Regions from separate parts of the Homo sapiens genome. Here region 1 is linked to region 2. Evidence: fine-mapped expression QTL. A gene starts in region 2. The other region holds a variant in brackets. All regions are shown on one strand. Distances are from middle to middle.

Evidence for each region.
Region 1: its variant is fine-mapped to the expression of DAGLB in whole blood (TOPMed, PIP 0.95).

The regions. Positions count from the first base shown.
Region 1 is chr7:6,421,455-6,431,985 of GRCh38, reverse strand. It overlaps DAGLB (diacylglycerol lipase beta), which reads left to right. Exons shown (of 15, transcript NM_139179.4): 6 at 1,379-1,506; 7 at 5,872-5,998; 8 at 7,151-7,234; 9 at 10,182-10,259. Among named protein-coding and RNA genes, the nearest start is that of DAGLB, 21 kb to the left of the region's middle. RefSeq lists an enhancer at 6,967-7,466. The variant G/A (reference allele first, on the strand shown) is at 4,798.
Region 2 is chr7:6,442,008-6,452,213 of GRCh38, reverse strand. It overlaps DAGLB (diacylglycerol lipase beta), which reads left to right and starts at 4,260. Exons shown (of 15, transcript NM_139179.4): 1 at 4,260-4,466; 2 at 6,110-6,261. The coding sequence starts at 4,372. RefSeq lists an enhancer at 4,003-4,052.

The DNA of each region.
Region 1 (10,531 bases), 20 kb after region 2:
TTTGTTGTACAGATTATTTTGTCACCCAGGTACTAAGCCTAGGACCCTACAGCAGTTTCATTAGCAGCAGGGTTGGAATCTGATTGGCGGCTTCCACTGGTTGTATTGCATCACCTGTCAGGTGAGGCATCTTCGTTATCAACTGGAGTTCAGGTAGTGGGAACCCATTCCTGGCCACTTTATCATCCATCATATCTTTATTTTTTATTTTATTTTTTGAGACAGAGTCTCTGTCACCCAGGCTGGAGTGCAATGGCATGATCTTGGCTCACTGCACCCTCTGTCTCCTGACTTCAAGCAATTCTCCTGCCTCAGCCTCCACAGTAGCTGGGACTACAGGCGTGCACCACCATGCCCAGCTAATTTTTGTATTTTTAGCAGAGACGGGGTTTCACCGTGTTGGCCAGGCTGTTCTCAAACTCTTAGCCTCAAGTGATTTGCCGGCCTTGGCCCCCCAAAGTGCTGGGATTACAGGCGTGAGCCACTGCATCCGGCCACATTTATCATATCTTTGAAGGCTTATGTTTTAGGAAATTTGCTGTTCAATTCTATGCATTAGAACAATTCCTCCTGGGATGGGGACTGCGATTCTCCCTGGGTGTGTTTGCTTTCTTCTCTGGGGCTGGGGGCAGAAGCAGTTCAGCTTTGCTTGGTGATAATTTTCCTGCCACAGGTTGTTATGTTTTTGAGAAAGAAAATTGCACGTAGACGGTATGTATCTTCGCTGCTCCGGGTTAAGCCACTCAGTTCTTGACAGCTCGTGTGTGGCAGTGGCATGGAAATGTACTAGTTTCAGGCATCTAGATAGGAAGCGCCGGCTCATTTCAGCAAAAACAGCAGAGAAGTCATTGGAGTGTTTTTTACTGTTAACTTCCCCGTGCTTGCTGTGTTCCTATAAAATGAGGAGTCAGGCTGGGCGTGGTGGCTCACGCCTGGCTTCCCAGCACTTTGGGAGGCCAAGGCAGGTTGATCACCTGAGGTCGGGAGTTCGAGACCAGCCTGGCCAACATGGTGAAACCCCGTCTCTACTAAAAATACAAAAATTAGCCGGGTGTGGTGGCGGGTGCCTGTAGTCTCAACGACTTGAGAGGCTGAGGCAGGGGAATTGCTTGAACCTGGGAGGCGGAGGTAGCAGTGAGCTGACATTGTGCCACTGCACTCCAGCCTGGTGACAGAGCGAGACTCTAAAAAAAAAAAAAAATGAGGAGTCCATGTCATCCTTATTGAAGGAGCAGTTTTGCCTGTGGGCGTCTGAGAGTTCTATTCAACGAAGGAGCAGGAAGAGTCAGGAATGAGTTCAGGTTTCAGGTCTCAGTGTGTTGATCCTCTGTGTCAGGAGTTCCCTTAATAAACAGTAGTTTTTGTCCTTCTCTTGTAGGAAGCTGATCTGGATGCAGAATTAGAAAACTGCCATCATTACATGCAGTTTGCAGCAGCGGCCTATGGGTGGCCCCTCTACATCTACAGAAACCCCCTCACGGGGCTGTGCAGGATTGGTGGTGACTGGTGGGTTGGCACAGTCTGAGCCTCCATAGCCATATTTCCCTTAAAAAAAAAAGCTATTTTGAGATATTTCAAAAATTTGAAAGAACAGTGCAAAGAACTCCCATGAATCCTTTACCTAGAGTCACCAGCTGTGACTCATCTGGTCACATGCGCTGTATCTCTCTCTCTCTCTCTCTCCCTCCCTCCCTCCCCCCTGCATATATATATATATATATATATATATATATATGCACATGTATTTTTTTTCCCCGAACCATTTTATTTTTCTCTTTTTGAGACAGAGTTTCACCCTTGCTGCCCAGGCTGGAGTGCAGTGGCGTGATCTCAGCTCACCACAACCTCCGTCTCCCAGGCTCAAGCGGTGCTACTGGCTCAGCCTCCTGAGTAGTTGGAATTACAGGTGCCCGCCACCATGCCCGGCTAATTTTCATTTTTTGAGATGGAGTTTCACTCTGTTGCCCAGGCTGGAGTGCAGTGGCACAATCTCGGCTCACTGCAAGCTCCGCCTCCCTGGTTCACGCCATTCTCCTGCCTCAGCCTCCCGAGTAACTGGGACTACAGGCGCCCGCCACCACTGCTGGCTAATTTTTTGTATTTTTAGTAGAGATGGGGTTTCACCGTGTTAGCCAGGATGGTCTCGATCTCCTGACCTCGTGATCCGTCTGCCTCGGCCTCCCAAAGTGCTGGGATTACAAACATGAGCCACCACGCCCGGCCACACCCGGCTAATTTTCTATTTTTAGTAGAGACGGGGTTTCACTATGTTGGCCAGGCTGGTCTGGAACTCCTGACCTTGTGGTTCACCTGCCTCACCCTCCCAAAGTACTGAGATTACAGGCGTCAGCCACCAGGCCCGGTCTCAGGTAATTTTTGTATGTTTAGTAGAGACAGGATTTCCCCATGTTGACCGGGCTGGTCTCAAACTCCTGACCTCAAGTGATCTGCCTGCCTCAGCCTCCCAGAGTTCTGGGATTACAAGGTGTGAGCCACTGTGCCCAGCCCCAGTAATACCCTTTTTAGCAATTTTTTTCTCCAATCCAGGATGATGCGTTACATCTAGTTGCTGTGTCTCTTTGGTCTCCTTCAAGTTTTAAGTTTCTCAGCCGTTCTTTCCTTTCATGATATTGACATTTTGAAGAGGACAGTGCAGATATTTTGTAGAAGGGCCTTCAATTTGCATTTGTGTGATGGTTTCCCCATGATTAGATTTATGTTTTGCATTTTTGGCGGGAATGGTCCATGACAACCATCCTTCCTAGTGTATCATATCAGGGGATACATGATGCCAGTTTGTCCCATTTCTGGTTATATTAACATTGATTGCTTGGCTGAGGTGGTGACTGCCAGCCTTGAGACCATTTAAATATCTTGTCCCAGGCCGGGCGTGGTGGCTCAGACCTGTAATCCCAGCATTTTGGGAGGTCGAGGCCAGCGGATCACTTGAGCTCAGGAGTTTGAGACCAGCCTGGGCAACCTGGCAAAACTCCATCTCACTAAAAATATAAAAATTAGCTGGGTGTAACAGTGTGTACCTGTAGTCCCAGGTGCTTGGGAGGCTGAGGCAGGAGAAACACTTGAGCCCAGGAGGCTGAGGTTGCAGTGAGCTGGGGTTGCACCACTGTACTCCAGCCTGAGTGACAGAGCAAGACGCTGTCTTAAAAAATAAATTAAATAAATATATATGTCTATATCCCACCAGGTGCAGTGGCTCATGCCTATAATCCCAGCACTTTGGGAGGCCAAGGCGGGCTGATCACCTGAGGTCAGGAGTTCAAGACCATCCTGACCAACACGGTGACACCCCGTCTCTACTAAAAATACAGAAATTAGCTGGACATGGTTGCACACACCTGTAATCACAGCTACTCGGGAGGTTGAGGCAGGAGAATCGCTTGAACCAGGGAGTTGGAGGTTGCAGTGAGTGGAGATCACACCATTGCCCTGCAGCCTAAGCAACAGAGCAAGATTCTGTCTCAAAAAGAAAAAAAAAAAAGAAACCAAAACAAAACAAAAAACAAGTAAGTAAATGTCCTATCCCTCTCTGAATTCTCATCTGGCAGTACAGCATCCATTGATTCTTGTCTGAATCACTTATTACCAGGATGGTGGCAAAATCATGATTTTTCTTTTTCTTTCTTTCTTTCTTTTTTTTTTTTTTTTTTTTGAGACAGAGTCTCAGGATCCTGGCTCACTGCAACCTCCATCTCCCAGGTTCAAGTGATTCTCCTGCCTCAGCCTCCCGAGTAGCTGGGATTACAGGCCTGCACCACCATACTCGGCTAGTTTTTTGTAATTTTAATAGAGACAGGTTTTCGCTGTGTTGGCCAGGCTGGTCGAACTCCTGACCTCAGGTGATCCACTCGCCTTGGCCTCCCAAAGTGGTTGGATTACAGGCATGAGCCACCGCACCTGGCCAAAATTGTGATTTTTCTAAATTCATCATTTCTTCTACATTAATTGTCATTCTCCTATAAAAAAGAGCTTTTTATCCCTACATCTTACTGTCAATATGGATTTATAGATTCTTAAATTATTCAGTGGGTTGTAATTATGACTGTTTATTTTGTATTAAGTACAGTGTTTATTTGATGCTCAAAATGTTCCAGATTTTGTCCTGCAGACTGGCTCCAGTGTTCTTTTCATATGACCCCATCATGTTCTGAGCACTTCCTAACCTCTGGATTTTGCTTTTTCTTTTTTTGGGACTGTTGCCCAGGCTAGAGTATAGTGGTATCATCACGGCTTACTGTAACACCATACCCTCAACCTCCTGGGCTCAAGTGATTCACCTGCCTCGGTCTCCCAAAGTCCTGGGATTACAGGTGTAAGCCACCACGCCTATGTATTTATTTTAAAGATCATGAGATTTTACTAATATCTTTTTTTTGTTTGTCTTTTAAGAGACGGGGTTCTCTCACCTCAGCCTCCCAAGTAGCTGGGACTACAGGCATGCACTGCCAGACCCAGATAATTTTTAAAAATGTTTTAAATTAATAAATTTCTTTTTAGAGACAGTTTTGCTTTGTGGCCCAGGCTGGTCTCCAACACTTGAGCGATCCTCCCGCCTCAGCCTCCCAAAGTGCTGGCATCATGGGTGTCAGTCTCCTGGCCCTGATATCTTTTAATTCTAGTCCAAAGCCACAGAGTTTCTCTTTGCTTCTCCACATCATGTCTGCAAAGAGAAGCTTGGCTCCCAGCAACATCAGCGTGAGTTACCCATGCTCAGTCCCCTATTACTAAGAAAATAGTTTCAGAATTGCTATACCCAGTTCCACTACAAAAAGGGCATCT[G/A]CTAAGTACAGTTTGCGATGTGTTTGTAGTTTTTTTAGTTTTTATTTTTATTTATTTTAATTTAATTTAATTGTATTTTTTGAGACGGAGTCTCACTCTGTCACCTAGGCTGGAGTGCAGTGGCGCGATCTCAGTTCACTGCAACCTCTGCCTCCCAGTTGCAAGCAAGTCTCCTGCCTCAGCGTCCCGAGTAGCTGGGATTACAGGCGCCTGCCACCACACCTGGCTGAGTTTTGTATTTTTAGTAGAGGTGGGGTTCCAGCACGTTGGCCAGACTGGTCTCGAACTCCTGACTTCAGGTGATCCACCTGCCTCGATCTCCCAGAGTGCCGGATTACAGGCATCAGCCACCACGCCCGGCCTCTTTTTGTTTTTTAAACGTAGAGCACAGTACTCAAAAGTTACTTCTATGATTTCTTGTTTATTTTCTACGGAGTTGGCTGTGCTGTTCATTTGGACAGGTTTGCTTTACCTGCTTCTGTTGGCATTCAGTTTTAGGGACTTGCCCATCCTTGTTGATGAATTTTTTGAATATAGAAATCATTAACATGATGCCAGAAGTCAGAACTCTATCCAAGAAGTGTACACAGAGAGGTATTATCTTTAATAAGCCATTCCGGGCCCAGTGCAGTGGCTCACGCTTATAATCCCAGCACTTTGGGAGGCCAAGACGGGCAGTTCGCCTGAGGTCAGGAGTTTAAAACCATCCTGGCCAACATGGCGAAACTCTATCTGTACTGAAAATACAAAAACTAGCCGGGCATGGAGGTGCACGCATGTAATCCCAGCTACTCAGGAGGCTGAGGCAGGGGAATCGCCTGAACCTGGGAGGCGGAGGTTGCGGTGACCTGAGATTGTACCACGGTACTCCAGCCTGGGTGACAGAGTGAGGCTCCATCTCAATCAGTCAGTCGATCAAATTAAGTTTTAAAAAGCCATTCCATGTCAGCCAGGCTAAGTCCTGAGAATTGTCCGCTCTGGTCCTCGCGTCTCTGGGAACATGTGGCAGTGAGGATGGACGTTCCTTGCCAAGTGGCTCTGTTCGGCATAGTAACGTCTTTGTCCTCTTTTTAGCTGCAGAAGCAGAACCACAGACTATGACTTGGTCGGAGGCGATCAGCTCAACTGTCACTTCGGCTCCATCCTGCACACCACAGGGCTGCAGTACAGGGACTTCATCCACGTCAGCTTCCATGACAAGGTGTGGACGCTGCAGACAGCGGCTCTTCACTTCTTTTGGGTCCTGGAGCTGTTAGAGATTCTGATGGAAGTTATGAATTATTCTTCCCGTAATTCATAGACACACAAACACACTTCTAAGTCCTGTGTACTATTTCAGAGGGGCCACAGACTCTGGGGGAGCCACACAGATGCCCTGGTGCAGGTTCAGAACCCAGGTTTCACATAAGATAGAGACGTCTTCATCAGAGATAGCGCGCTGTGTTTCTTACCTCGCCCTTCTGTTGAGGAGTGAAATCCCTCAGTATTAATGCCGCATGGCCTTCTGGGATTCGTATCGTCGTCCTGGGTTGTGAGTGCCATCAGTAGTGTAGTGTAGCAGGTCTGGCACTCTGGGGGGGTCACTGTCACCTTGGGAGAAGCTGCAAAAGCCAGCTGTGGGCCGGGCACAGTGGCTCACGCCTGTAATCCCAGCACTTTGAGAGGCCGAGGCGGGTGGATCATAAGGTCAGGAGTTCGAGACCAGCCTGGCCAATATGGTGAAACCCCATCTCTACTAAAAATACAAAAATTAGCTGGGCGTGGTGGCAGGCGCCTGTAGTCTCTGCTGGTCGGGAGGCTGAGGCATGAGAATCACTTGAATCCGGGAGGCGGAGGTTACAGTGAGTTGAGATTGCGCCATTGCACTCCAGCCTAGGTGACAGAGCAAGATGCCATCTCAAAAAAAAAAGCCAGCTGTGCATGGCTGCAGTGCTGCGTGTTCAGTGTCGCTCGCTGTCTCTCCAGGTGATTCTCATAGGCACCGCAGCGGGAGGCCTGCTGGCGCAGATCGGCGGCTCTCCCACTTTGCTGCCCAGTAGAACCTCTTGAGGAGCTTTTAACACTGCTGAGGTCCAGGCCGCACCCTGGGCCAGTTCAATCCGAATCTCTGGGGAGGTCAGAGAGAGGCTAAGAAAACAAAGATCCTTTTTCATGTAGAGCAGCATGGTTTATGAAGGCCAGTCCCTGCCAGAGTGGGTCCCACTGTGTAGTGAGCGTGAGTGGAGAGGCGGTGTCCCCTCCTCTCTGTGCCGCAGGACTTGGGCTGTCATTGCAGACACTGCAGGGCTCCGACTTTGCGTGCTGGTGCGTGTGTTCACTGTTTAGGCCCCATGCTTGTTTCTTGCTCCTGCAGGTTTACGAGCTGCCGTTTTTAGTGGCTCTGGATCACAGGAAAGAGTCTGTTGTGGTCGCTGTGAGGGGGACCATGTCTCTGCAGGTAACGTTGGAACCTGACTTTCCAGCCCTGGGAGTGGGTGCGGGAGCGGGAGCCCACAGCTGCTCGGCTGGGGAAATCCGTCAGTAACCGCATGAGACACAGGGGAAAATGGTGAGGACAGAAAATGAGGATGTGAGCCTGGGGTTGGGAAATACTCCCTTTGCAAAAAGGGATGAAGCTGTTTCATCTTCACTGAGAACTGTCAGCAGCAGAGCGGCCAGCAGGTTGGCCCCCCCGCCACAGGAGCTCCCAGAGGGCACCTGCTTGACCCCTCCCTGCCTAACTTCCCTGAGCCCAGCCAGGCCCCACACCCGGGAGCCCTCCCGGGGAATTTCTGCACCAGAGCCAGATGGCGGCAGTGAGTCAGTCTTGCTGCAGAGAGTCACGCCCCTGGCCACCAGCCCCGCTGGAGGCTCCCGGTTTGGATCCTCACAGGCCCTCGTGGCCTGCCGTTCTCCAGGTGAGGTCAGGACTGCCGACATCCATCCCCAGCCCATGGCCCCTCTTCTGTCTTCCTCAGTCCATACTCCTGGGCCCCTTGGAGATGCCAGGTGACGCTTTCCTTGTCAAAGCTTTCTTCTCTCCATTCCGGTTTCCTCCTGGCCACTCCTCAGTCTCACTTCCCGTTCTTCTCTGCTGACCCAGAAAATGAGTTGAGACTCCAGAGCCTGTGTGCTCAGCCCTCTTCTGCTCCTGACTGGCTCTGGGGTAGCCCCCCTAAGTCCAGGGCCAGGACCCCAAACTTGCATCTTCAGGAGCCATCTGTGGGTCTCCCGGGAGGCACCAGAGAAGCCACACTTCCCACAGGGCTGCTCCTCCCGGGGGGCGCCCTGTTCACGTCAGCTCTGCCATCGTCCCCCCATTGCCCATTTAAGAAGCAGTGGCGCCTGTAATCCCAGCACTTTGGGAGGCCAAGGTGGGTGGATCACAAGGTCAAGAGATCGACACCATCCTGTCCAACATGGTGAAACCCCGTCTCTACTAAAAATACAGAAAATTAGCCAGGCATGGTGGTGGGCTCCTGTAGTCCCAGCTACTCAGGAGGCTGAGGCAGGAGAATCACTTGAACCCGGGAGGCGGAGGTTGCAGTGAGTCGAGATTGCACCACTGCACTCCAGCCTGGAGACAGAGTGAGACCCTGTCTCAGAAAAAAAAAAAAAATTAGCCGGGCATGGTGGCGGGAACCTGTAATCCCAGATACTCAGGAGGCTGAGGCAGGAGAATTGCTTGAACCCGGGAGGTGGAGGTTACAGTGAGCTGAGATTGCGCCATTGCACTCCAGCGTGGCGACAGATCGAGACTCTGTCTCAAAAGAAGCAGTGGCGTCGTCTGTGGTTTCTGTGCGCCCTGTCTGCTGTGTGTGAACTTCCTGCCCCAGCCTATGTGGCCCTCTCTCCATTTCCAGCGCCATGGCCCCGCTTTTGGCCCCAGTCCTCTAGCTTCCCATCTCCGTCCTTGTCTAGTCTCATCTCCCCAGTCTGTTTGATTGTTTGTTTGTTTCTAAGACAGGGTCTTGCTCTGTTGCCCAGGGTGGAGTACGATGGTACAGTCAGCTCACTGCAGCCTCCACCTCTTGGGCTCAAGTGATCCTCCTGCCTCAGCCTCTCAAGTAGCTGGGAATACAGGCATGTGCCACTACACCCAGCTAATTTTTTCTATTTTTGTAGAGACAGGATCTCACTATGTTGCCCAGGCTGGTCTTGGACTCCTGGGCTGTAGCCATCCACTCACCTCAGCGTCTGTCCATTGTCCTGTCCACCAAGGACTCACTCTAGAACACGGATCGGATCTTACCGTCCTGCTCAGATACCTCCAGTGGCTTCCCATTGCCTTTATGGATTTATCTTTAAATGTTCTTTTTTTAATTCCAACTTTTATTTTAGATTCAGAGGGTACATGTGCAGATTTGTAGCTGGGTATACTGTGTGACGCTGAGGTTTGGGGTACTGTTGATCCCGTCTCCCAGGTACTGAGCATAGTACCCAGTGGTTAGGTTTTCATTCCTTCCCCTGCCCTCCTCTAGTAGCCCCAGTGTCTATTGTCCCCTCTTTGTGTCCATGAATACCCAATGTTGAGCTTCCACCGTCGCATCAGACCATGCGGTGTTTGCTTTTCTCTGTCTGCGTTAATTCGCTGAGGATGATGGCCCGCAGCTGCATCCGTTGCTGCAGAGGATGTGTTTTTGCGCTTTTCTATGCTTGGGCCCACTGTCTTTAACATCAAGTTTGTGTTTCTTATCACAGCTCTGGGTGCTTTACCCAGCAGCCTCCCCCATGCCCACTCCGCAGCCTGGACGCTGCTGCCGGGGCCTCCAGCCCAGCAGCACAGCACTCGCCTGTGGACCTTTTCAAATATGGCTGGTGTGGAGCCGTGCCCAGGGCCCCAGCCAGCGGGTCCTGCTGCCCCTGTTGGGAGGACGCCGCCTGTCCTCTCTGCTTTCACAACAACCTCTTCCTTCGGGTCTGGCTGTGGCGTCACCTCCTCCAGGGAGCTGCCCCTGCGCCTGGGCTGTGCCCCATCCTCTGACTCGGCACTGCCTGGCCCTTGCTGTGGTGCTAGTCTAGGCCTCCTCCTCTCCACGGTTTCACCTGTTACGGGGCTCCTGAGGACGGGAACCAGGCTTTGTTCAGAACCCTGGCACAGGTTCTGTGCCACGGGGTCCTTAGAATACGTGTGTGTGATGGGGAAGGCGCAGGGCGTGTCTTAGGCACACTCCATGGTCCCCTCCACCCTTCACGCCTGGCCCAGAGCTGGTCGTGCCATCAGGGCCCTCAGGAGCCACCGCTGGGTTTCCCTCTTTAGTTTAGGGTTCAGTCCCAGGACCGAACTAGGAGATGGTGCCATCCCCGCCATCCTCCACAGAAGTGTCAGGAGCAGGGACCACCTGTCATTCTCCCACCCTGCCCATCACAGGCTGACGGCCGCTTCTGCAACGCCCTTTTTACAGGATGTCCTTACGGACCTGTCAGCGGAGAGTGAGGTGCTGGACGTGGAGTGTGAGGTGCAGGACCGCCTGGCACACAAGGTATGAGCGCGGACTCGTGTGTCTTGCCTGTGAATGCTGACCACACAGAAGATGGGTGCCTCGGGTCAGGGACTGCACAGAGCCCGCGCTGCCTGCGCCTCCCGCGCTGCCTGCGCCTCCCGCGCTGCCTGCGCCTCCCGCGCTGCCTGCGCCTCCCGCGCTGCCTGCGCCTCCCGCGCTGCCTGCGCCTCCCGCGCTGCCTGCGCCTCCCGCGCTGCCTGCGCCTCCCGCGCTGCCTGCGCCTCCCGCGCTGCCTGCGCCTCCCGCGCTGC
Region 2 (10,206 bases):
CATGGCGAAACCCTGTCTCTACTAAAAATACAAAAATCGGGCCGGCCACGGTGGTTTATGCCTGTAATCCCAGCACTTTGGGAGCCCGAGGCAGGTGGATCACGAGGTCAAGAGATCGAAACCGTCTTGGCCAACATGGTGAAATCCGTCTCTGCTAAAAATACAAAAATTAGCCGGGCGTGGTGGCCCATGCCTGTAGTCCCAGCTACTAGGGAGGCTGAGGCAGAAGAATCGCTTGAACCCAGGAGGCGGGGGTTGCAGTGAGCCGAGATCGCGCCCTACACTCCAGCCTGGCGACAGAGCGAGACTCCGTCTCAAAAAAAACAAAAAAAACAAAAACAAAAAAAGAGGCAGGAGAGGCTGGGTGCGGTGGCTCACGCCTGTAATCCCAGTACTTTGGGAAGCTGAGGTGGGCGGATCACTTGAGGTCAGGAGTTCGAGACCAGCCAAGGCCAACATGGCAAAACCCTGTCTCTACTAAAAATACAAAAATTAGCTGTGCATGGTGGCATATGCCTATAATCCCAGCTACTCAGAATGCTGAGGCAGGAGAATCGCTTGAACTCAGAAGGCTGAGGTTGCAGAACTCAGATCGCGCCATGGCATTCCCACCTAGGCCACAGAACAAGACTCCATCTCAAAAAAAAAAAAAAAGGAAATGAGGCAGGAGAATCAGGAATGAGGGTAATCAATGGTTAACAAGGGTTAAGGCATAAGCAAAAGATCAGCAGGTGCAGCCAGTTCTGGGCAAGATAAGGCAGCATAGAGGCCACATCTGCACTTCTGTGATAACAAGACAGAAGTTTCCACTTCAGCCATGAGTGTTAACCACATTCTTTCTGCTTAATGAAGACCCTAATTGAGGGGTCTCTTGAGCTGTGTGGTCTCTTGAACTTCGTGTCAATCAATCTGTGCTTTTTACGCCATTTGTTTGTCTTTTGTTGATTTGTTTTTTGTTGTTGTCGTTGTTGCTTTGTGGGGTTTTTGTTGCAATTTTTATTTATTTATTATTTTTGAGATGGAGTTTTGCTCTTGTTGCCCAGGCTGGAGTGCAGTGGTGTGATTTTGGGTCACTGCAACCTCCATCTCCCGGGTTCAAGCAATTCTCCTGCCTCAGCCTCCCGAGTAGCTGGGATTACAGGCATGTGCCACCACATCCAGCTAATTTTTAGGAGAGACGGGGTTTCGCCATGTTGGCCAGGCTGGTCTTGAACTCCTGACTTCAAGTGATCCTCCTGCCTCAGCCTCCCAAAGTGTTGGGATTACAGGCATGAGCCACCGTGCCTGGCCTAGTTTTTGTATTTTCAGTAGAGACAGGGTTTCGCCATGTTGGCCAGGCTGGTCTTGAACCCCTGACCTCAGGTGATCCACCCGCCTCGGCCTCCCCAAAGTGCTGAGATTATAGGGGTGAGTCACCGTGCCCGGCCTTGTGTTGCAATTCTCGGTTCAACGCGCAAGCCCCTGACCAACTCACAGCCAAGACTTTCCATCCAGTAACAGAAAACCTGCAGGAGGACTCTTCCTGGCAGAGGAAACACAGAATGTAGAACCCCTGGAGCAAAAATGACCCTGATGTCTTTTCAGAGGGGGAAAAGGCGGCAGGCAGTGGGGTGGGTGATAGAGGCAAATAGTAACCAGGGAGACAGATAAATGAGCCCTTACAAACTTTTGATGTGTGACTACCAGGGAAAGGCCTTTGCCAGGGGCTGGAGTGTAATTTTTTTTTTTTTTTTGAGACGGAGTCTTGCTCTGTTGCCAGGCTAGAGTGCAGGGCGCGATCTTGGCTCACTGCAACCTCCGCCTCCCAGGTTCAAGCGATTCCCCTGCCTCAGCCTCCGGAGTAGCTGGAATTACAGGCATGTGCCACCACATCCAGCTAATTTTTAGGAGAGACGGGGTTTCGCCATGTTGGCCAGGCTGGTCTTGAACTCCTGACTTCAGGTGATCCTCCTGCCTCAGCCTCCCAAAGTGTTGGGATTACAGGCATGAGCCACCGTGCCTGGCCTAGTTTTTGTATTTTCAGTAGAGACAGGGTTTCGCCGTGTTGGCCAGGCTGGTCTTGAACCCCTGACCTCAGGTGATCCACCCGCCTCGGCCTCCCCAAAGTGCTGAGATTACAGGCGTGAGTCACCGTGCCCGGCCTTGTGTTGCAATTCTCGGTTCAACACGCAAGCCCCTGACCAACTCACAGCCAAGACTTTCCATCCAGTAACAGAAAACCTGCAGGGGGGCTATTCCTGGCAGAGGAAACACAGAATGTAGAACCCCTGGAGCAAAAATGACCCTGATGTCTTTTCAGAGGGGGAAAAGGCGGCAGGCAGTGGGGTGGGTGATAGAGGCAAATAGTAACCAGGGAGACAGATAAATGAGCCCTTACAAACTTTTGATGTGTGACTACCAGGGAAAGGCCTTTGCCAGGGGCTGGAGTGTAATTTTTTTTTTTTTTTTGAGACGGAGTCTTGCTCTGTTGCCAGGCTAGAGTGCAGGGCGCGATCTTGGCTCACTGCAACCTCTGCCTCCCAGGTTCAAGCGATTCCCCTGCCTCAGCCTCCCAAGTAGCCAGGACTACAGGTGCGTGCCACCACACTTGGCTAACTTTTTTTTTAAATTTTAGTAGAGACGAGGTTTCACCATGTTGGCTAAGATGGTCTCGATCTCCTCCTGACCTCGTGATTCGCCCACCTTAGCCTCCCAAAGTGTTGGGATTACAGGCGTGAGGCACCGCGCCTGGCCTGCAATGTAATTTTATGCACAAAGTGCAGCCTTGCAAAGTCCCAGGCAGGGTGCAGGCTTTATCTGAAGGTTCACAAAGTCACCCTGGCTGCTGAAGAGGGCACAGCAGAATGAGAAAGCACAGTGGGGTGATGAGCCCAGGCAGGAGATGAAGGTGGCTCAGACCAGGGTGGGGCAGTGGGGGTACTGAAAAGCGCTCAGACTCCACCCCGCCAGCTGCAGGGTGGTTTCAGACCCTGAACTCGAGGGGTTCCTAACACGGGCTCCTTACAGCAAGGGGCACAGATGGAAGCAATGTTGTCCCATGCTTGCAAGTCTCACAGAACGGGATATGAGTCCCACACCTGCCATTGACAGCCTGGGTCTCTAGGCTAGCTAATTCCTCCAGGCCTGAAGCGTCCCTCCTTATAAAATGAAAATTTCGGTCAGGTGTAGTGGCTCACGCCTGTAATACCAGCACTTTGGGAGGCTGCGGCGGGAGGATGGTTTGAGGCCAGGAGTTCAAGACCGGCCTGGGCAACAGAGTGAGACTCCGGTCTCTACAAAAAATAGGAAAATTTATGGAGAAACCCCATCTCTACTAAAAATACAAAATTAGCTGGGCATGGTGACACATGCCTGTAATCCCAGCTACTCAGGAGGCTGAGGCAGGAGAATCGCTTGAACCCAGGAGATGGAGGTTGTGGTGAACCAAGATCGCGCCATTGCACTCCAGCCTGGGGCAACAAGAGCAAAACTATGTCTCTAAATAAATAAATAAATAAATAAATAAATAAATAAAAATAAATTAGCCGGGAGTGTGGCACGTGCCTTTGGTCTCAGCTACTCAGGAGGTTGAGGTGGGAGAGTCGCTGGAATCCAGGAATTCAAGGCGGCATTCAGGAGTTCAAGGCTGCAGTGAGTCATGATTGCGCCACTGCACTCCACCCTGAACGACAGAGCCATACGCTGCCTTAAACAAACAGACAAACAGGGCCGGGCGCAGTGGTTCACGCCTGTAATCCTAGCACTTTGAGAGGCCCAGGCGGGCGGATCACTTGAGGTCAGGGGTTCGAGACCAGCCTGGCCAACATGGTGAAACTTCGTCTCTACTAAAAATACAAAAATTAGCCGTGGTGGCGCGCTCCTGTAATCACAGCTACACCGGAGCCTGAGACAGGTGAATCGCTTGAGCCCGGGAGGCGGAGGATGCAGTGAGCCGAGATCACACCCACTGCACTCCAGCCTGGGAACAGAGCGAGACTCCGTCACCAAAAAAAAAAAAAAAAAAAAAAAAAAAAAAAAAAAAAAAAGGAAAAGGAAATATCACCAGAACGGATATCACTGCACTCTTCACGAAAAAGAAAAAGAAAATACCAGAACGGATTTCACCGACCGGCAGACCTGCAATCGACTCAGCCAGCGCCTTCCGGATCAGCGTTTCTGCGCAGGCGCAGACAGCTCCGGCGGAAGAGGCGGTGTAGGGCTCAGTGCGCTTGCGCCGATCTCGGCCTCAGCGTGAGCATGCGCAGGTCCCCGCCCTCGCTGCGTTTGCGCTTGAGCGCCGATAATTTGGTGGCGGCGTCCGGAGGGTGCTGGTTTGTTCTCGGTGAACGGCGCGCGGGGTCTCTCCTGAGTGCGAGCTACGGGACCTTCGCCATGCCGGGGATGGTACTCTTCGGCCGGCGCTGGGCCATCGCCAGCGACGACTTGGTCTTCCCAGGGTTCTTCGAGCTGGTCGTGCGAGTGCTGTGGTAAGGACGGCGGCTACGGGGGCGGTGGAGCCCACCGGAGAGGGAGCGGGGGGCGAGCTGTCCCTTGAGACGGTGACAGAAGTGGCTTCCCAAGCACTGTCGCGGTCCCAGCGCTGGCCACGCATCCTCTTATCGAGTTCTCACCACTGCCCGAAGAGGTGGGCAGTGGTGCTGTGTCCATTTGACGGATGACAAACCGAAGCCCCCAGAGTGTGTGGGCTGACCCCGGGGGACAAACAGGGGGTTTCGAAGTCCGCGCAGCAGGACGCGAGCACCCCTTTGTGTGCAGCGCCGAGACCTGGCCCTGGGGTGCCACGAGGGTGTTACCGCCGGCAAAAGCCTTGGCCTCGAGTTCTCCTTTCTTGAGGCGGGAGCAGCCACTTGTGCCCTTCCTTCCCTTTGTACGGGGCACTTGAATCTGCAACACGAAGGATAGGAAAAAATACCGAGCCGGTTGTGGCTGCATTTCGTGAGAAGCAGACAGGCTCAACATACAACGCTGTTGTCTTTCAAAGTGTGGAATCAGTGGGAAGTGGCATTGGTACCTGAAGTCTGTTCCCAGAGGATCTGTGCAGGGAATGAATCATTGTTATGCAAAAGTAGATTCTTGGCTGGGCGCCATGGCTCACGCCTGTTATCTCAGCACATTGAGAGGCTGAGACGGGAGGATTGCTTGAGGGCAGGAGTTTGAGACCAACCTGGGCAACATAGTGAGACCCCTTTTCTTTTTATTTTTTTGAGACAGGGTCTCACTCTGCTACCCAGGCGGGAGTGCAGTGGTGCGATCACCACTCACTGCAGCCTCAACCTCCTGGGCTCAAGCGATCTTCCCACTTCACTCTTCCAAGTAGCTGGGACCACAGACTCGTGCCACCACGCCCAGCTAACTTTTTCTATTTTTTGTAGAGATGGAGTCTCACCGTGTTGCCCAGGCTAGTGTCCAACTCTTGTGCTCAAGTGATCCTCCTGCCTTGGCCTCCCAAAGTGCTAGGATTACAGACGTGAGCCGCCGTGCCGGGCCTAGATCTTTTATTGTTGGCAATTATATTCCAGGCCAGGTGCAGTGATTCATGCCTGTAATCCCAGCACTTTGGGAGGCCAAGGCAGGAAGATCACTTGAAGCCAGGAGTTCAAGACCAGTCTGGGCAACATAGCAAGACCCTGTCTCTACAAAAAGAAAATTATATTCCAAAGTGAACCTTGCCTTGTTTTGGAAAATATTAACTCCTTTTATTTCTTTTTTTTTTTTTTTTTTTTTTTTTTTTTTTTTGAGACGGAGTCTCATATCGTTGCCCAGGCTGGAGTGCAGTGACACGATCTCGGCTCACTGCCACCTCCACGTCCCAGGTTCAAGCAATTCTCCTGTCTCAGCCTCTCGAGTAGCTGGGACTACAGGTGCGCACCACTACGCCCAGCTATTTTTTTTTTTTTTTTTGTATTTTTCGTAGAGACAGGGTTTCACCATGTTGATCAGGATGGTCTCGATCTCCTGACCTTGTGATCCGCCCACCTCACCCTCCCAAAGTGCTGTGATTACAGGTGTGAGCCACCGCGCCCTGTCCCCTTTTATTTCTTTGTATCATGTTCTACACAGCAGCTCCTTGGATTTCATTTCTGACCCTTCCCTTTTTTTTTTTTGCCAGGTGGATTGGCATTCTGACGTTGTATCTCATGCACAGAGGAAAGCTGGACTGTGCTGGTGGAGCCTTGCTCAGCAGTTACTTGATCGTCCTCATGATTCTCCTGGCAGTTGTCATATGTACTGTGTCAGCCATCATGTGTGTCAGCATGAGAGGTAAAAAGTAGCCTTTTCTATTTGATACCTATTTTTTTATAGCTTTATTGAGATATAATTCACATACCATACAATTCACTTCTGTAAACTTTCCAATTCAACAGTTTTTAATATAATCACAGAGTTGTGCAGCCATCACCATCATCAAGTTTATACCATTTTCTTCACTCCTGAAAGAAATCCTGTACCAGGCGGGACACAGTGGCTCACACCTGTAATCCCAGCACTTTGGGAAGCCGAGGTGGGTGGATCACTTGAGGCCAGGAGCATGAGACTAGCCTGGCCAACACAGTGGAACCCCATCTCTACGTCTCTACTAAAAATAGAGAAAATTATGTTGGTGCATGCTTGTAATCCCAGCTGCTAGGGAGCTGAGATCATGCCACCGTACTCCAGCCTGAGTGACAGAGTGGAGACTCTGTCACAAAACGGAAAGAAAGAGATCCCATACCCATTAGCAGTCACTCCTCATTTTCCCCAAACTCTCCCAACCCTAAGCATTCACTAATTTGCTTTCTGTCTGTGTACATTTGCCTATTGTGGACATCATATAAGTGGAATTTATTCACTGTGTGGCCTTTTGGTCTGGTTTCTTAAGCTTAGCATAATGTCTTCAAGATTCATCGATGTTTTAGCATGTATCAGTACTTCATTTTGATGGCTGAATAAGAGCATCGAATGAATGGACCACATTTTATTTATCCCTTTGCCATTTGGTAGGCATTTGGATTGTTTCCATTTTTCACCTATTACGAATAGTGCAGCTATGAACATTCGCATACAAGTGTTTATACAGACATGTTTTCATTTCTCTTGAGTGTGTACCTAGGAGTGAATTGCTGGATCATGTGTTAATGCTCTGTGAAACCTTTTGAGGAACTGCCAGACTTTTCCAAGCAGCTGTACCATTTTACATTCCCACCAGCAGTGTATAAGGGTTCTAATTGCCCAACGCTCTTATTATATGACTTGTTAATTATAGCCATCCTAGTGAATGTGAAGTGGTAGCTCATGATTTTGTTTTGTTGTGTTTTGTTTTGTTTTTTTGAGACGGAGTCACACTCTGTCACCCAGGCTGGAGTGCCATGGCGCAATCTCGGCTCACTGTAACCTCTGCCTCCCGGGTTCAAGTGATTCTCCTGCCTCAGCCTCCCGAATAGCTGGGGCCACAGGCCATTTGTTTTTTGTCTCATGGCTTTGAGGAACATTTCTTTGGTGACTAATGATGTTGAGCATCCTTTCATTTGCTTATTGCTCATTTGTGTATCATTTTTGCGGAAATGTCTGTTCAGATCTTTTGCCCAATTTTAGACTAGGCTATTGATCCTTTTATTTTTTATTTTTATTTTTTGAGATAGAGTCTCCCTCCGCTGCGCAGGCTGGAGTGCAGTGGCGTGCTCTCTGCTCACTGCAGCCTCCGTCTCCTGGGTTCAAGTGATTCTTGTGCCTCAGCCTCCCATGTAGCTGGGATTACAGGCACCCGCTACCACGCCTGGCTAATTTTTGTATTTTTAGTAGAGATGCGGTTTTACCATGTTGGTCAGGCTTGTCTCGATCTCCTGACCTCACGTGATCCACCCGCTTCGACCTCCCAAAGTGCTAGGATTACAAGTGTGAGTCACCGCGCCTGGTCCCTTTTATTTTTACATTGTGAGGGTTACAACTATTTTGTTGTTGTTAGAGACAGTGTCTTGCTCTGTTGCCCAGGCTAGAGGGCAGTGGCGCAATCATAGCTCACTGCAGCCTCAAATACCTGGGCTCAAGCAATCCTCTCTTCTCAACCCCCAAGTAGCTGGAAGTACAGGCACGTGCCACCATACCTGGCTAATTTTTTTTATTTTTATTTTTTGTAGAGACAGGGTCTTGCTATATAGCTTAGACTGATCTTGAACTCCTGGGCTCAGGTGATCCTCTCGTCTCGGTCTCCCAAAATGCTAGGATTACAGGGGTGAACCACCGCGTCTGATCACCTATTCTTCATATTTTTTATATGTGTTACAGTTTTCTGTAGATAACCATTTATCTGAGAATGTCTCCAGAAGTGTTGGAAACCTTCCCTGTTGGATTCCTCTGCTTCATAGGATGATGTGAGCACTGTGGTGACTAATAAAGGAATGCATTCTTAGAAATGATTCATTGGTCAGAGGCAGGGCTGTGTGACATGCCACCATCCGCCATGTTTTAGTCCTTTGTCACTGCTTGAATTGGGATGGACGAGGTATGCATATCAGATATATGCTGGTGGTGAGGTGCACTGGGAGGCGCTGGTGATACAGTGAGTGACGGCATCAAGATCTTGACAGTTTGGAATAAAGGACTGAAATGTAAAAGGTGTTAGCTCATAGGAGCAATGTAGAGGGTAGAAATGTTAGCAGCAACATCTTTCATGAGAAAAAGACCTTAGGGTTTGGGATGACCAGCAAGAGTGGCATGTGCCTGATTACCACAGTAACATAGAAAACAGAGCTCTGTGTATTTTATTTTACTTTTTTCTTTTGAGACAGAGTTTTGCCCTTGTTGCCCAGGGCTGGACTGCAATGGCGTAATCTCAGCTCACTGCAACCAACCTCTGCCTCCCAGATTCAAACAATTCTGCCTCAGCCTCCCAACTAGCTGAGATTACAGGCACGTGCCACCACACCCAGCTAATTTTTTTGTATTTTTAGTAGAGACAGTTTCTTTTTTTTTTTTTTTTTTTTTTTTAGTAGAGACAAAGTTTTTTGTTTGTTTTGTTTTGTTTTTTTTGTTTTTTGTTTTTTTTTTCCGGATGGAGTCTCGCTCTTTCACCCAGGCTGGACTGCAGTGGCACTATCTCTATCTCGGCTCACTGTAAGCTCCGCCTCCCGGGTTCACGCCATTCTCCTGCCTCAGCCTCCCAAGTAGCTGGGACTACAGGCGCCCGCCACCGTGCCTGGCTATTTTTTTTTTTTTTTTTGTATTTTTAGAAGAGACGGGGTTTCACTGTGTTAGCCAGGATGGTCTCCATCTCTTGACCTCGTGATCCGCCCGCCTCAGCCTCCCAAAGTGCTGGGATTATAGGCGTGAGCCACTGCACCTGGTCTAGTAGAGACAAAGTTGAACCATGTTGGCCAGGCTGGTCTCGAACTCCTGACCTTAGCTGATCCACCCACCTCATCCTCCCAAAGTGCTGGTATTACAGGTGTGAGCCACTGCACCCAGCTAGCTCTGTGTATTTTAGTATGCCTCTAGAAACATCCACGCAAGGAGGCTGGATTGATGGAGGCTCCACGTTTGTGTTGGCCCCCAAATGTAGGCTGTCATTGGTGCCAGATGCTTAAGGAAAGAAAGAAACCATGTGTACAGTGTGGCTTCAGCGCTGGGAAGCTTCTTATTGAAGGTGAAGTATTGAGACTGGTGTCATTTCAGATACAGCATTATCTAACTTATTTGCCCTTTTTTGTTCATCTCACATTCTGGTTAGACCACTGAGTTTGTGGCTGTAATAGCAGGGTCAGAGTGGAAGCAGTCGGTGTACTTTTTTTTTTCCTTACATGTTTGTTTGTGTTGAGATATTTTTGGTGTTGGGACGTCTTTACCTCCCTGTGAGGGATGCTCATATTCACTCCGTTCCCTCTTCCTAGACACTCGTACAATGCTTGCATCATCATGTACTTGTGGTCAGAGCTCAGAAGTCATCTGTGGGTTGTCGGAGTGTTCTGGGTTGTCTATCCCACAGCCTCCTCCAAACAGAACCCCGTTTTGTTTTGCCCCCATCCCACACATACCAAGTATGCGTCAGAGAAGCAGACCCTAGGCCGGGCTCACGTATTGGTGATTGGTTCAGGAATGGACACGTGACCCAGTTTGGCCCAGTGAGAGTCAGGGAGAGTTTGGTGGAAGGTTCTGGGGAAGTGCTTCCTTGCCCCTCTAGGAAGGATCCAAAAGCCATTTATCGTCGCTCTCCTGGCTGAAGCTGTGTCTCCA